Linked DNA regions of Homo sapiens. The protein of the gene in region 1 purifies or fractionates together with the protein of each later gene. This does not show direct contact. Each region holds a gene or a part of one and is shown on either strand. Other genes may lie near its edges.

Evidence for each region.
Region 2: the proteins of ZNF780A (region 1) and ANKRD17 purify together in Homo sapiens (affinity purification with mass spectrometry; one large-scale study listed by BioGRID and IntAct). This does not show direct contact.

The regions. Positions count from the first base shown.
Region 1 is NC_000019.10:40,083,351-40,088,829, forward strand, and holds part of ZNF780A (zinc finger protein 780A), read right to left. Parts: intron 1,449-5,479; coding exon of another isoform or gene 1,404-1,448; coding exon 1,395-1,403; intron 1-1,394.
Region 2 is NC_000004.12:73,077,299-73,081,787, reverse strand, and holds part of ANKRD17 (ankyrin repeat domain-containing protein 17), read left to right. Parts: intron 1-2,897; coding exon 2,898-3,146; intron 3,147-4,254; coding exon 4,255-4,433; intron 4,434-4,489.

The DNA of each region.
Region 1 (5,479 bases):
GTGCCTGCACATTCTTCAAGAAGTCTCCTGCTGGCTGAGTATGGTGGCTTATGCCTATAGTCCCAGCACTTTGGGAGGCAGAGATAGGAGGATTGCTTGAGCCTAGAAATTTGAGACCAGCCTGGGCAACATAATGATATCCCATCTCTGCAAAAATTAAATAAGTAACTGTGTGTGGTATCACGTACCTGTAGTCCCAGCTACTCGGGAGGCTGAGGTAGGAGTATTGCTTGAGCCCAGGAGTTCAAGGCTATAGTGAACTGTGATCACGCCACTGCACTCCAGCCTGGGCCACAGAGCAAGACTCTGTCTCAGAGAAAAAAAAAAAAAAAAAAAAAGGTGGCATACAATTAAAGAATGTTCTTAATCCTCAAGTTCATTATGGTATGAGATGACAGCAAAAGTATTTTTTCTTGTCATGACAACTGATTTTTATAAGCTGCATTAAAGTCAATAGAACTCACATATTAGATTTATTCATTTTTTTTCTATTTATACGTTGAGGATGGCCAGGGCCTCTAAGGATTTCCCCAATTCTGAGAATTTTTTATTTTTTATTTTTTTTCTGAGACAGAATTTCACTCTGTTACCCAGGCTGGAGTGCAGTGGCACGATCGCAGCTCACTGCAACCTCCACCTCCCAGGTTCAAGCGATTCTCCTGCCTCAGCCTCCTGTGCAGCTGGGATTACAGGTGCGCACCACCACAACAGGCTAATTTTTTTTTTTCTTTTTTTAGAAGAGATGGGGTTTCACCATGTTGGCCAGGCTGGTCTCAAACTCCTGACCTCAAGTGATCCACCACCCACCTCGGCCTCCCAAAGTGCTGGGATTGCACGCGTGAGCCACCATGTCCAGCCAGAGAATCTGTAATCACCTATCATTCATGCCCTGAATTATCTTCTCCCTGCTACTGCCCACTGTCCTCACCTATCATTTTCCTAAAAGCCTCATAAAGCAGATCACCTTGTCACACTTGCAGACTGAGGCTACTCACTATGGAATTCTACCTTAGCTACCTGGAAAGCTCTAGTCTGTAAAGTTTCAAAGTGTTCCCAAGTGTGGTCAATCATCTGTAACTTATCAAACCCATAAGACCCTGTTTCCCTGTGGGGACTGATTCCTCCACTGTTCCAATATTCTTCCTGACCAAGGTCTGAGCACAGAGCACAGACTGAATAACTTTTTCAAAGAAAACATCAAAGCCAGTAGGAAACAGAGGTACAAATAGGAAGAGCAGTGACTTTTTTTTTTTTTGTCACCAACCTTCACTGTAATGGGACAAACTGGGGTGTAAGATCGTGAATTCTAGGTACGAAGCTTCAGGTTAAATAATAACAGTCACCTAACCTGAAAGTCACCATATTTCAAGGAAAAGAGAGAAATACAAACTTACATGGACCATGTTGCTAGAATTACAAAACTGGTCAATCTTCCTCGGGCTTCTCCCCTGGAAAACAACAACAACAAAAAGGCCACAATTAAAGCTGTGTCTCAAAAGCAAATAACTATTTTATCCTCCGTTCCTATTTCTCAACTACTCCTGCTAACACGCACACTTCCACCCTTCTCCCATCACTCCCCTTGCCCCCACACACACTCTCTCACAAATAGCTGGCAGTGAACGGGTGGAGTAGGGATGAAACCAAGCTCTCGCCTGCATCCCAGGGAACCTGCGGCAGAAGCATGAATGCCGAGCACAGGCATTTCTGCCTTGAAGTTGTGGCTTCCAGCCAGTCCTCCATTCTTGGGATACCTATCTTGGCCTAGGTCTGGACCTCTGATCCTGCCCTTAGCAGATCCTCCTCCCCCAGTCCCACCTTTCAGAGCTGAGAAGGGATTGCATCATCCAAACCAGAACCTCTTTGTGAAATCAGGATTGGGTGCAGTGGGGGAAGGCATGAGAACTGGAAAGCATATTTGCACTGGCAGTGTTTGCACCAAATTGCACTGACAGTGTTCAGCATTCTAAATTCAGCAAAAGCCAGTTGGTTAATACAGTTCAGAACATCCACTTAATAGAATACAAAGTAAATATTAAACGTTCAAGATATATGATTAACAGAAAAATCAGGTTACAAAACAGGATAGATAATATGATTACATTTGTAAAATATATGTATATAGAAATACTAATAAAAAGACTAACAGACATTAATAGAAAAAAATTTAGAAAATTATATACATGTTAAGAGTTCTCCTCTGTGTATTGTAGCTCCAATTTTCTTCTTTTTGCTTAAGAGCATTTCATGGCCGGGCACGGTGGCTCACACTTGTAATCCCAGCACTTTGGGAGGCTGAGGCAGGCAGATCACGAGGTCAGGAGATCGAGACCAACCTGGCCAACATGGTGATACCTCGTCTCTACTAAAAATACAAAAATTAGCTGGGTGTGGTGGTGCATGCCTATAATCCCAGCTACTCAGGAGGCTGAGGCATGAGAATCGCTTGAACCCAGGAGGCGGAGGTTGCAGTAAGCTGAGATCGTGCCACTGCACTCCAGCCTGGCAACAGAGCGAGCCTTCATATAAAAAAAAATTGTAACTACATCCAAGCATTAACTTGGAATATATATAGTTATATTCACACACACACACACGTGTGTGTATATATATATGTGTGTGTGTATATATATATTTATATATATATATGTGTGTGTGTGTGTGTATGCATCTCTATATATGGACATATATAAATGTACATACACATTTCTTTCCTATGAGGAAACTTCTCCAAATTAGATGAAAGACACTTTTTATTTAGATATCTCCCTTTGAACTTGGGGTGGGAAATCAGCATACTCTAATGAACTGTTGTTTTTACTTAACAAGTTTGTTTCCTTTATTTTCCAATTCTTGACCAACACTAAGATGTCTATGTTTTTCTATGTATGTTGGAGCAATCTCTAGAAAAAATTGTCTACAAGTCCCCAACCAATGTCTTGTATGCATTAATGATAGTCTATTTCTACTTTTGAAGTAAAAAATAAAAACAGAGTTATCAGGAAAAAAACCTGAGCCTGTCACGAGATTCAACAAAAGAGGTTAAAGTGACTACAACAAATAACATCAGCTAGTTCTAATATCCTTTAGCTGTATCTCACCAATATAATTAGATATTCTCATTATCAAGATTCTTCTTTGAATGAACACAATGCAGATAAGTGGCATTTGCAAACTATGTGAGAAAATTTGTGAAATATACACCACCATGCTTGGTTCCCTTCTTCACCAAATAACCAATTAAAATATTATTTTAGATATAATTCTTATAGAATGCCTTCAGATAGAATTCTTATAGAATTCTTATACAAAAACCCTATCTTAGTATATGGGATTCATATAAAACATAACAATTTCTTTTTGGGGGGCAGGGGTGGAGTCTCACTCTGTCACCCAGGCTGGAGTGCTGTGGCCTGATCTCGGCTCACTGCAACCTCAGCCTCCCAGGTTCAAACAATTCTCCTGCCTCAGCCTCCTGAGTAGCTGGGATTATAGGCGCCTGCCACCACTCCCGGCTAGTTTTTATATTTTTAGTAGAGACAAGGTTTCACCACGTTGGCAAGGCTGGTCTCAAACTCCTGACCTCAAATGATCTGCCTGCCTCAGCCTCCTAAAGTGCTGGGATTTCAGGTGTGAGCCACCGCGCCCCGCCCCATGTAACATTTTCTTGAGTATTATTGTTCATAGCATGAATATTGCTTAATGATATATCAAATATTTTTCTTTTCATAATTCCTTATAGACATCATTTTATTACCTGTGTAATACTCTATCACTTGAGTCTAGTATGATTAGCTTAATGATTTCTGTATTATAGGACACTTATTTTATACAAGATCATTTACAATGTCATTCCAGATATCACAATCTTTTGATTCTGGACTACAGTTTTTCACCCTAGGCACTACTGACATATTGTGCTGGATAATTCTTAGATGGGAGAGTGGGGAGAGCTATCCTGTGCATAACACAATGTTTAGCAGCATTCCTGACCTCTATCCATTAGATCTAAGTAGCACCCTCCCCGACAGCATGACAACCGAAAGTTTCTAAACATCACCCCAGCTGAGAACCAATGTTCTATCTAGATCAATGGATCCAAACCTCATGGGTCACATAAATTTTTTTGATAATCTTATGAAATGATACACTATTTCTCCCCCTAAAACCCACATTTATAAATTTCTATAATACTTCAATATTTTATTTCAAGAGCTTTTGGTCCCTGAGACCATAAATGGAGTCACAGGAACTCAGGTTAAGAATTTCTGTCCTACATTCCTTACAGAAACAGGAAAAAAACAAAAATGCTAAAATTTGTATAGAACCACAAAAGACCCAAATAGCCAAAGCAATCTTGAGCAAAAGGAACAAAGTTGGACTCATCAAAACTATCTGACTTCAAGATATACTACAAAGCTATAGTAACCAAAACAACAAGGTACTGACATAAAAACAGACACATAGACCAAAGAAACAGAATAGAGAGGCCCAGAATAAATCCATATATTTATAACCAACCGAGTTTTGAGGAGGGTACCAAGAACATACAATGGGGAAAAGAGAGACTCTTCAAAAAATACTGTTGTGAAAAGTAGGTATCCATATGCAGAAAAATGAAATTAGACCCTTATCTCAAACCATTATACAAACATCAACTCTAAACAGATTAAAGACTTAAATGTAAGATCCTAAACTATGAAACAAATAGAAGAAAACATAGGGGGAAAGCTCTGTGAAACTGATCTGAGCAATGATTTTTTTTGGGATATGACCTCAAAAGCACAGGTAACAAAAGCAAAAATGAACGAATGAAATTATGTCAAGCTAAAAAGCTTCTGCACAGAAAAGGAAACAATCAACAAAGTGAAGAGACATCTTGTAGAATGAGAGAAAATATTTGCAACCATATATATGATAAGAGATTAAGATCCAAAATGTATGCAGAAGTCAAACAACTCAACAGCAAAAAAAAACCTGATTAAAAGATGGGCAAAGGACCTGAACAGGCACATCCCAAAAGAAGACATATAAATGGCCAACAGTTTATGAAAAAATACTCAACATCACTAATCATCAGGGAAATGAAAATTAAACCCGCAATAAGATATTAGCTCATACCTGTTAGGGTGGCTACTGGAAAGACAAATGTTAACAAGTATTGGCAAGAAAAGGGGAACGCTTACACACTGTGGGTGAGAATGTAAATGGGCACAGCCATTATGGAAAACAGTATGGAGGTTCCTCAAAAAATTAGAAATAGAACTACCATATGATCCAGCCATCCCACTACTGGGAATATATCTCCAAAGGAAATGAAATCTGTATGTCAAAGAGATATCAGCATACCCATGTTTATTGCAGCATTATTCACAATAGCCAAGATATGGCATCAACCTACGCGTCTAACAATGAATAAATGGATAAAGAAAATGTGGTATATATGCAGGTATATTTACACAAGGGAATACTATTTAGC
Region 2 (4,489 bases), on another chromosome or scaffold:
GGTGAAGTTACCGTGGTATCAGTGAAACTTAAATCCTTAGGCCACTTCATTTTATGGGGTACTTCCAAGTGCTGTACATGATTTTTTTATTTGTAATTTTTCATTCTTCTAAAAAAGGTTCCCAAAATTTTGTAAGTTTAAGGCCCCACAAAACCTAGATCTGCCCCATCCTCTGAAACCTGTTTCTCTAATATATAAGCTGATGTTTTTAAATAACATGGCTCTGAATTAAATTTTGCTTTTTTTCTAATTGAAGTAATTATAATAATTAGAGATGTGAAAATTATTTTAGTTAGGTTCTTTTCATGAAAAGGAATATAGGCCCATCCAGGGACTCTCATGGAAAATGATGTTTATATAAGGCTATGCAGAACCATTTTCCAAACCGTCCAGGACTTAGGGATAGCTATTCTCTCTCTCTCTCTCTCTTAGAGGATTTGTGGTCTCTCACTCATGGTCTGTTTCTTGTCAGTTTCTTGCATTCTGCTCTCTTTACACCTAAACTTCTTCATAATCTTACCTTGTATATGCACATCAGTGGTTCAACTTCATAATTAATTAAACCAGTTAACCCTTTAATTCCCCATTCTTTGATGAGGAATGTGATTGGCTCAGCTCATATGTTCAAGTCAGACCATTTCAGTCAGATTACTGACTAGCCTAAAATAAAACTTGGATGGGTGCCTATCCTTAATCCAATAGTTGTGCAGAGAGGGAGCAGAAAACAGGGTCATCTGATAAAAACTATGACTAGAGGGGTGGCAGAATCTGTGCAGAGAGTAAACTTCTTAAATGGCGCAGCTCAGCGGGCAAGCCTAGTAATTCTGTTTATTAAAATAGAATGTGTAGGAGGCTGAGGTGGGAGGATGGCTTGAGGCCAGGAGTTTGAGGCTGCAGTGCACTGTGATTGTGCCTGTGAATAGTCACTGTACTTCAGTGTGGGCATCATAGTGAGACCGTCTCATAAAAAACAAAACAATGTGGAAGGTTGTTGTTATTTTGCTCTACTTTGGTTCTAGAAGGATACAGGAAATAAAAGGGAAACCAGAGTGAACACAGAGGTTAAGGTAGGCTCCCAGGGATGAACCTAGGGGAAAGCAGGATTCATTTGTTTATCCTTCTTTCCTTCCTGCCTGCCTGCCCTGACTATGTCTTGATGTTAGTTGTTCTGGGTTGATTTTTCCTAGAGGTTTAGGTGTGGCCTTTCAATATGTAGGTTTTTAAAAAACAAGCTTTTGTTATTTATCTTTGTGTTTACATTTACATGTCTGTGTATTCCTTGTAGTTTTTGTCTGTTTTCTACTGCATGTATAATTGCAGAATTTGGTTTTATTTGGTCTTTAGCTAAAATATTCTTTTACTTCTAACACTTTCCTGAGTTTTGTCATATTGTTTCCGTTTTACTAATTCTGAATTATGCTGTTCCTTCATATCATTTTCTTTTCGTTCATTTTTGAATTTTAGGTTATAGCTTTTTTTCTGGAGTGCTTTTATTGTCAACAGGAATGCTATAGGTCTTTCTCTTTTATCTTATATAATAGGCTTATTTGGAATTCAACTGCAGTTCTGTTGAATCTGCAGGTAACAGTTTTGATTTTTAAGCTTCAGACTCCTTTATTATTTATACCATTTTAGTTTAAATGTGCTTTAATATTTAAGCTTTTTTGGGAGGGGGAGGGGGGATGGAGTCATCTTGCTCTGTCACCCAGGCTGGAGTGCAGTGACACGATCTCGGCTCACTGCATCCTCCGCCTCCCGGGTTCAAGTGATTCGTCTGCCTCAGCCTCCTGAGTAGCTGGGACTACAGGCGCGTGCCACCACGCCCGGCTAATTTTTGTATTTTTAGTAGAGACAGGGTATCACCATATTGGCCCCTCGAACTCCTGATCCCATGATCCGCCCGCCTTGGCCTCCCAAAGTGCTGTGATTACAGGTGTGTGCCACCGCGCCCGGCCAATATTTAAGCTTTTCACATAAAATATAATTTTGGTTATTTTTGTTTTTTCTCAATAATGTATAGAGATTGAATCACTAATGAATAGTCTCAAATCAAGAAATCCACCTTGTTTGCATAAGTAAAAAAGATTCTCATTACCAAAAGCATGTTCTGTGAAGTACTCACAAGATAAAATAAAACAGACTTAGGCAATGATCCTCTTATTGGTATTTTATCAGTATATATAATGTTCTATAAACTTCAGTTCTAATTTGAAGAAACTTTTTTTTTTTAAACTGGACATGATGGCTCATCCCAGTAGTCCCAGCTGTTCAGGAGGTTGGGGTGGGAGGATCGCTTGAGCCCAAGAGTTTGAGGCTGCAGTGAGTTATGATCGAGCCTCTGCACTCTAGCCTGGACAATGGAGCAAGACTCTGTCTCCAAAAATACATAAATAAAATAAATAAAAAATGAATAAATAACAAAGAAACGTATTTCTTTTTCCTAGGCTAGGTTTTCCAAATTTATTAGATAGCTGAATCTCTTTTTCATCATAACACAAAGAGCAAGTATTCCCAGGGAATACAGTTTGGAGATTGCCACTACAGGCAGTGATTCTTACCCATCTCCATTCTGTTGTTGTTGGTTTGTTTTTTAATTTAAATGTCTTATTGCTTGCTACATTTTACTTAATGTCAAGGGTTAATTCATTTGAATATTATTTAATTTAATGGTTTATTACCTTTGTAGTTGAACATTTTGCAGCATTGACATCATATTCTACCTTGAAGTCATGGAACTTTAGCCAAATTTTAATATGCATCATTTTTAAGTATTATTTTTACACTTTGTTTTTCTGAGAATATATATTTAAAACATCTCCTGGTTTTAAGATTTGGTTTTATAAAATTACATGTTCTATAGATGACCTGTATTTTATTTCAAAATATCTCTTCTCTAGATTCTTCTGCACAGTCAGTATCCTCGGGAGTTCGTGCACCATCTCCTGCCCCATCATCAGTACCGTTAGGGTCAGAAAAGCCCAGCAATGTGTCTCAGGACAGGAAAGTTCCAGTCCCTATTGGGACTGAACGTTCTGCACGTATCAGGCAAACTGGAACGTCAGCTCCATCTGTTATTGGGAGCAATTTGTCTACATCAGTAGGACATAGTGGCATCTGGTCCTTTGAAGGGATTGGTGGCAATCAAGGTAGGATATTCTGTCCTGCTCTCTAGAAATTAACTTAATGCATTTAACTATAATGTAAACAGTATTTAACTTTAATAGTCATTTCCTTTTTTTTTTTCTTTTTTTGAGATGGAGTTTCACTTGTTGCTCAGGCTGGAGTGCAATGGGGTGATCTTGGTTCACTGCAACCTCCACCTCCCCGGTTCAAGCGATTCTCCTGCCACAGCCTCCCAAGTAGCTGGGATTACAGGCATGCGCCACCATGCCCAGCTAATTTTTTTTTTTTGAGACGGAGTCTCGCTCTGTAACCCAGGCCGGACTGCAGCGGCACAATCTCTGCTCACTGCAAGCTCCGCCTCCCGGGTTCATGCCATTCTCCTGCCTCATCCTCCCAAGTAGCTGAGACTACAGGCGCCCGCCACCACGCCCGGCTAATTTTTGTATTTTTAGTAGAGACGGGGTTTCACCGTGTTAGCCAGGATGGTCACGATCTCCTGACCTTGTGATCCGCCCGCCTCGGTCTCCCAAAGTGCTGGGATTACAGGCGTGAGCCACTGTGCCCCGCCTGTATTTTTAGTAGAGACAGGGTTTCACCATGTTGATCAGGCTGGTATCAAACTCCTGACTTCAAGTGACTCACCCACCTCAGCCTCCCAAAGTGCTGGCATTACAGGCATGAGCCACCACGCCCAGCCTCGTAGTCATTTCTAAAAGATCTGTATTCCTATTTTTTTTGTTATGTGAATATTTAATCACTTCTTTATGAGCTCTGTCCCCATGTGACCTTTCTCATTACATGTATTTATTACTGCTTTCAGAAAATATCTAATGCAAGCATGTTCTTTTCTTCCTTTCATCATATTAAGGACATAATAATATTTCCTTTCAGTCCCTTTAGGTTGTACTTAGGTTTTTTTCTTTTGTTTTATAACACCAAGTTTTTAGATTATTTCATTAAGCTATTATGTCACTACTTACAAACCATGGAAATATTGCTGTAAATATATAAAAGTAGGTCATTATATTGAAATAATTTACGGTTCAATGTGGAAAATATTAGAAAAACAAAATATTTGATTTTGATTTTAAATATTATCTATTTTTGTTTTGCCTCTTTGTTTGCCCTCAGACAAAGTAGACTGGTGTAACCCTGGGATGGGAAATCCTATGATCCACAGACCGATGTCTGACCCAGGAGTATTTTCACAACATCAAGCAATGGAGCGAGATAGTACAGGAATTGTAACTCCTTCTGGTACATTCCATCAGCATGTTCCTGCAGGCTACATGGACTTTCCTAAAGTTGGGGTAAAGTCCTGATTTTGTACTAGTTATTTAAGGGAGGATTTTCTGAGAAAATGTTT